Linked DNA regions of Homo sapiens. The protein of the gene in region 1 interacts with the protein of each later gene in a pairwise test. Each region holds a gene or a part of one and is shown on either strand. Other genes may lie near its edges.

The links. Proteins that work in one complex are often made in the same cells at the same time.
Region 2: the proteins of CEP57L1 (region 1) and CCDC57 interact in binary tests that used the Homo sapiens proteins (3 or more experiments, as listed by UniProt).

The regions. Positions count from the first base shown.
Region 1 is NC_000006.12:109,171,518-109,175,193, reverse strand, and holds the end of CEP57L1 (centrosomal protein CEP57L1), read right to left. Parts: 3' UTR 776-3,676; downstream 1-775. UniProt on the Homo sapiens protein: Centrosomal protein which may be required for microtubule attachment to centrosomes.
Region 2 is NC_000017.11:82,167,656-82,171,625, forward strand, and holds part of CCDC57 (coiled-coil domain-containing protein 57), read right to left. Parts: intron 1-3,970. UniProt on the Homo sapiens protein: Pleiotropic regulator of centriole duplication, mitosis, and ciliogenesis. Critical interface between centrosome and microtubule-mediated cellular processes. Centriole duplication protein required for recruitment of CEP63, CEP152, and PLK4 to the centrosome.

The sequences.
Region 1 (3,676 bases):
CATCACTGATTTACTTTCTTTCTCATCTTCTGACCATTGACGAAACTTGTTTTTCATTTTTTTGTGCCACTATGAGTTCAAATCAATTAAGAAAAATATTTTTGTGGCCACTGGAATGCAGAGAAGCCCTTGGAGATCTGGAGCTGCTACCATTAACCAATGACTCACGCTTTTTGTACTTTTATTACATTTGATCCATCTGTGGCTAATGTTATAAACTAAGGCTGGTAGTTCTGTGTATTGCTATTATTTTTTGAGATAGGGTCTTGCTCTGTCTCCCAGGTTGGAGTGCAGTGGCATGATCATGGTTCACACGGCCTCCATCTCTGGGGCTCAAGCAATCCTCCCATCTCAGCCTCCCAAGTAGCTGAAACTACAGGCATGCATCACTATGCCTGGCTAATTTTTAAATTTTTTTTGTAGAGATGAGGTCTCACTATGTTGCCAAAGCTGGTCTCAAACTCCTGAGCTCAAGCCATCCTCCCACCTCAGCCTCCCAAAGGACTTGGATTACAGGCGTGAGCTACCACGCCCAGCCTGCGTATTAATTTTTAAAAACCATCTTTTTTCTCCTCAAAAAGGAAGGCATAGTTCTTTGTAATAGTCCATTTGTAATTACACAGCTTTCTTTCTCCAAAGTCAATGTCCTTTCTCCCTCAGAAATATGCTGGAGATTGAACAGTCAGAAAAAAACATCATTTGAACACACTATTTAGGGATATCTAACTCCAACAGACAAATCTACCATGAAAAAGAACAAAATATACACAGTGAACAAACTTGGAAATTGTTTTTATGTAACTTTAGAGCAAAGGGTAGAAACTTTACAGAAGGTTTTGCTTGGTTTGTGTAACCATTCTACAAATAAGCCTGGATCTGTGATGGGATGGGAATGATTGCTGCCAGCTTGTCTGGAACATTATGACCTCTGCAAGAAATCTGAAAAGTTCTCAGTGCATAACATACTCTCTCCCTTCTCAAAAGAAAAGAGTAAAGTATCCATCTTAGACACTGTAATTTATATCCATTAGGCCCTATCTCCTAACACTGCTTCATTGGAGATGGTTTCCAACACAAGGTTTTTTTTTTTTTTTGAGACCAAGACTCACTCTATGGCTCAGGCTGGAGTGCAATGGCATGATCTCGGCTCACTGCACCCTCTGTCTCCTGGGTTCAAGCGATTCTCCTGCCTCAGCCTGATGAGTAGCTGAGACTACAGGTGCATGCCACCACACCCAGCTAATTTTTTTTTTTTTTTTAGTAGAGACGGGGTTTCACCATGTTGGAGGCTGGTCTCAAACTCCTGACCTCAAGTGATCCACCTTCCTTTGCCTCCCAAAGTGCTGGGATTATAGGCGTGAGCCACTACGTTCAGCCCCAACACATGGCTTTTGAGTGACATATTGAAATCATAGCATGTGACTGATTTCTATTTCTAATGGACACAGAAAAATTCTGCCGGGCACAGTGGCTCATGCCTGTAATCCCAGAGCTTTGGGAGGCTGAGGTGGAAGGATTGCTTGAGCCCAGAGTTTGAGACCAGCCTGGGCAGCAAAGTGAGACCGCGTCTCCTCAAAAAAAAAAATTTTTTTTTTTTTTTAATTAGCCAGGTGTGGTGGCATGCACCTGTAGTCCCAGCTACTTGGGAGGCAGAGGCAGGAGGACTGCTTAAGCCCAAGAGTTTGAGGTTGCAGTGAGCTTTGATTGCATTCACTCCACTCCAGCCTGGGTGACAGAACAAGACCCTGAAAAGAAAAAAAAAAAAAAAAGAAAGGTAGGGGGCGGGCTGAGGGGGAAGGAAAGGAAAGATTCCTTTCTTCTTTATCTCAAACTCTCAATAGGCCACCCTTGAATAAACTGGAAGGAAATAATATTCTTTAAATGGTCTCATGTTCCAACTGACCTTTTAGGATTCAGGAAAAAAATTAATAAAAATTATTAATATAACTTGTAAGTAATACAGTGTCAGGAAAATGCAAAAATAATACTGTAGAAAATGACACAATTAAAAAGTACACAAACAATGGTATACATGGTTAAATATTACACAAAAGTATCCCTTTACTTTTCACAGACATGTGGCTATTTGCATAGGTTCAAAAAAAACATGTTCTCCTTCCTACCAGGCAATAATTAACAAATCACTTTTGTAACCATCACCATGCCACACATCTCATTAAAGTAGATATGGCAAACCCATTATTAAGCAAAGCAGTCCAAGCAACTTGGCTGAGGTAAATTGACCGGTTCTTGGTTCCTGACTTCAGTATAGTATGTGGGCAGTATCTTACACATAAAGAAATGACAACCTCTTGGGCTTGAAAAAGCCTCCAGACAAAGTTAACTCCTATGTTGTAGTAACACATGGCCCTAGTTTTATTAACTAGACTTATAAGAAGGTCTTTGTATACTAAGCGTAACCTTTTATCACACTCACATAATAAAACTAGTCATCAAACTAATGATACTAAATCAGAAAATCACTAAGCAAATTTATGGCCAATTCCATGCTTTAGGAGGAAATTTGGAGGCAAGACTGACACCTTAACCAGAGGCCATGATAGGTAAGCAATGCACATCACTTTTGGGTCAGAAAACAAAAAACAATACCGCAGTAAAGGATCAACATAGCAAGTCTTGATTGTGTAAACTTTTCACATTCCAAAGAAATGTTTGTCCTGTGTCCAGATTCAAGATAACCTCTAAGTCCTTGGACTATCCTGCCTGATATGAATGTTTTAATTTACTTGGGGGCCTTAGGCCATACCAGGTAGTCTAAGCTAACAATGTGATTAATGGTGAAGTCCTTAGGCCATGTAGTATCAGCTCCATCTTTGGAGGGGCTGAAAACTGAAGGTCAGCCACATGGGCTATCAGTCATGCTATGCCTACGTGACCAACCCTCAAGAAAAAATCTGGACACCAAGGCTTGGTGGAGCTTCCCTGGTTAGCAATTCTCCAAGAATGTTGTCACACATTGTTGCTGAGAGAATTATGGTCTGTCTGCTGAGAGAATTATGGTCTGTCTACATGACTTCACAGGTGAAGGACAACTGGAAGCTTGTGCCTGGTGTCCCCCAGACTTTGCCCTATGTGCCTTTTTTCAGCTGCTGATTTTAATATATATTCTTTTGCTATAATATACCATAACCATAACTTAACAGCTTTTCTGAGTTCTGTGAGTCCCTCCAGTGAATCACTGATCCTGAAGGTGGTCTTGGGGACCACCCGAGATAAAACACTGAGGTAAGGTTAACAACAAAAACAGTCACCACACTGTCTAGTTCTCATTTCCCATGTAAATGAAACCTTGAGCCTTTCCTGTAAATTACTAATAACTATATCCCTGGTCTTGGCAATGCTGATATCTAAGGATACATGATGACCTCTGATATGATGATTATCTGAGGAAACTGTTTTCCACCATGAAAAGAATAACTAAACTTGGTGACTTTGGTAATTTTGTAGGTTTTTTCATTTTTTAATTTGATAAGCCTGTCCTCCTAAAGCTTGTACTCCCTTGCAAGACTTCTTTGCATATAAACTCCTAAATGCTTTAATCTTTTAGTGGTTTATGTTTTTTATTTCTGTAGATGGTAGTTTAAACTGATAGTATTTTAGTAGAACGGTTTAAGAGAATCAAACTCTAGGCAGGGCGCGGTGGCTCACACCTGTA
Region 2 (3,970 bases), on another chromosome or scaffold:
TTGCATTTTTAATAGGGGTTTCACCATGTTGGTCAGGCTAGTCTTGAACTCCTGACCTCAAGTGATCCACCCACCTCGGCCTCCCAAAGTGCTGGGATTACAGGTGTGCGCCACCGTGCCCAGCTAATTTTTGTATTTTTAGTAGATACGGGGTTTCGCCATGTTGGCCAGGCTGGCCTTCAACTACTGACCTCAGGTGATCCACCTGCCTTGGCCTCCCAAAGTGCTGGGATGACAGGCATGAGCCACGGCGCCCGGCCTGTCAACGTAATTTTAAGAGTTAAGTGTGAAAGAATGTCTATCATATTCATCCTTGCCATTAGTTTTCCTTCACTCCTGACATTCCTAGTTTCCTTCCTTCTGTTGTGTCTAAAGTACCTCCTTTATCAGTTCTTTTAGATCCAGTCTGCTGGTGACAAACTTTTCCTTCATCTGAGAATGTCTTTATTCACTCTCATTCCTGAAGAATATTTTTACTGAATGTATAATTATGGGTTGACAGTTTTTTGCTTTCAGTACTTGAAAAATATTATGCCACTTCCTTCTGAGGAGAAATCTGATGACAGCTGCTGCTGAGAACCCACTACCGCTCCAGTCACTGTCCCCTGTGGGCTGTGCATCGCTCTCTCTGTGTGCTTTCAACAGTTTTTGTCTTTAGGCCGGGCGCAGTGGCTCACGCCTGTAATTCCAGCACTTTGGGAGGCCAGCGCAAGTGGATCACCTGAGGCCAGAAGTTCGAGACCAGCCTGGCCAACATGGTGAAACCCTGTCTCTACTAACAATACAAACGCCACCAGCTGGGCATGGTGGCACATGCCTGTAACCCTAGCTACTTTGGAGGCTGAGGCATGAGAATCGCTCGAACCCAGGAGGCAGAGGTTGCAGTGAGCCGAGATTGTGCCACTGCACTCCAGCCTGGGCAACAGAGACTCCGTCTCAAAAAACAAGAAATTCATTTCAAATATAAAAGAGAGAGGTAGGTAAAAAGAAAAAGGGATGAAAAAGTTATACCACGCGAATGCTAATCAAAAGAAAGCCCGAGTGGATTAATTAATATCAGACAAGGTAGACTTCAGAACAAAGAATGTTGCCAGACAAAGAGGAAGATTACGTAACAATATAAGGGTCAATTATCCTAAAAAAAAAAAACCCTAAATGTATACACATCTAACAACAAAGATACAAAATATATGAAACAAAAACAAAGAATCGTGATTTAAAAAATAAAGATCTATATTAAAACAGGAATAGAAAGAAACTTCCTTAACCTCCCTCCACTACCCCCACCACAAAAAACCTTCAGCAAAAACTCAACCTAAAAAAGTGAAATGCTGAAAGTTCTTCCTCTGGGATTAGGGAGAAAGACAGCTATTATCAACATCATACCGGAGAGTTTAGCTAGGGGCGATAATGCAAGAAGAAGTAAACAATATCAGCATTGGAAAAGAAAAATAAAACCTCCCTTATTTTATTTTACTTTATTTTTTTTGAGATGGAGTCTCGCTCTGTTACCTAGGCTGGAGTGTAGTGGTGCAATCTCGGCTCACTGCAACCTCCGCCTCCTGGGTTCAAGTGATTCTCCTGCCTCAGCCTCCCAAGTGGCTGGGATTACAGGTGCCTGCCACCACGCCCAGCTAATTTTTTTGTATTTTTAGTAGAGACGGGGTTTCACCATGTTGGCCAGGCTGGTCTCAAACTCCCGACCTCAGGTGATCCACCCACCTCGGCCTCCCAAAGTGCTGGGATTACAGGCGTGAGCCACTGCGCCCGGCAAAAACCTCCCCTATTTGAGACAATCTGTGCCAGTGGAGTGTCCTGTCTGGCCCCTCCCTTTCTTTTCCTGCCTTAGGCCTGCAGATGGGGCCTGCCTCCCCTACACTAAGGGGGGCTGTGGCTCCAGCAGGGTGAAGGCATCTGTGTGGAAGGCAGCCAGGCTGGGCTGTCAAGCTCGGTGATGCTGGGGAGGCATCCAGGCAGGAGAGGGGCCTGCAAATAGGGGAAGGGGCCACAGCAGCAATGGGGGATTGGTTACACCAAGAGGACTCGATCAAAGTAACTGTGTTAGTGATAATGGGCGAGCCAGGTTTCTCATTATTGGGAAAGGAAGTTAGAATAATGAAAAAGAAAGCTAGAATGCTAGAATGAACCTTTTGATGTTGGACTAACCACAATGGAATAGATTAGCCTATGAGTTTGTCTTGAAATTAAGACCTTCCATTCACCAAAGACACCAGTGAAGGAATAAAAGGCAAGCCATAGACTGGGAGAAGATATTTGCAACACATATAACCAACGCTAGGCTCATATTCAGCATAAAATACCCTAAAAAAATCTATGACAAAGGGCAGATGATCCAATAAACAATGGGCAAAAGACATGGCCTGGAGCTCCAAAAGAGGGGCTGTCGAAAGGCCAATTCTATGGACTGAGCTCTGCCCCCCAAAATTTACGGGTTGAAGCTCTCACCCCGAACATGACTGTATTTGGAGACAGCGCCTCTGAGGAGGCAGCTAAGGTTACATGAGGTCCTAAGGCTGGGGCCCTGGACTGTTGTCCTTACAAGAAGAGGAAGAGTCGGGCGCGGTGTCTCACGCCTGTCATCCCAGCACTTTGGGAGGCTCAGGTAGGCAGATCACGAGGTCAGGAGTTCGGGACCAGCCTGACCAACGTGGTGAAACCTCATCTCTACTAAAAATACAAAAATTAGCCGGGCGTGGTGGCATGCACCTGTAATCCCAGCTACTCAGGAGGCTGAGGCAGGAGAATCGCTTGAACTTGGGAGGCAGAGGCTGCAATGAGCCAAAATCATGCCACTGCACTCCACCCTGGGCAACAGAGCAAGACTCTGTCCCAAAAAAAAAAAAAAAAAAGAGGAAGAGACACCAGGAGTGAGCATGCAGCGGGGGAGGAGTCACGTGAGCACGCAGGGGGAGAGTCCACATGAGCACGCAGGGGAGAGGGTGCCGTCTGCAAGCCACAGAGAGGCCTCAGGAGGAACCCACCCTGCCGGCAACCTGATCTCTGACATCCAGACTCCAGAAGTGAGAAAATAAAACCGTTGTTTAAGCCACTCAGGCTGTGGTGTTGAGTTACGGCAGCCCTAGCCAATCATACGCCAATGCACACAGGAAGAGATGTTCAATCCCACGAATCTCATGAATTTGCAAATTAAACCAAAATAGGATGTGCTACGTGTCCACTAGAGGGAACAGAAGGAGCCGCTGACCACGTAAGTGTTGGCGCGCATGCAGCACCACGGCTACCTCGCACGATGTGGATGGATGCTTTGGAGAAGAATCTGGCATTATCAAGTGAAACACAGTGTAGGTCTGAAGACGCCAGACAGAAGCACAGGTGCCACAGAATTCCATTCACACCAAAACAGGGAGCGCTGACTGCAGTGAGCAGCCAGGGCACGTGGGCTCCGGAGGGAGCACAAGGAATTCCATTCACACCAAAACAGGGAGCGCTGACTGCAGTGAGGAGCCAGGGCACGTGGGCTCCGGAGGGAGCACAAGGAATTCCATTCACACCAAAACAGGGAGCGCTGACTGCAGTGAGGAGCCAGGGCACGTGGGCTCCGGAGGGAGCGCGAGGAATTCCATTCACACCAAAACAGGGAGCGCTGACTGCAGTGAGGAGCCAGGGCACGTGGGCTCTGGAGGTAGCTCCAGGAATTCCATTCACACCAAAACAGGGAGGGCTGACTGCAGTGAGGAGCCAGGGCACGTGGGCTCTGGAGGGAGCACAAGGAATTCCATTCACACCAAAACAGGGAACGCTGACTGCAGTGAGGAGCCAGGGCACGTGGGCTCCGGAGGGAGCACAAGGAATTCCATTCACACCAAAACAGGGAACGCTGACTGCAGTGAGGAGCCAGGGCACGTGGGCTCTGGAGGGAGCACAAGGGGCTGCTGGGCTGGATGACGCCGCCCCAACGTCTGCAGTAGCCTTGAGCTGTATATTTGCT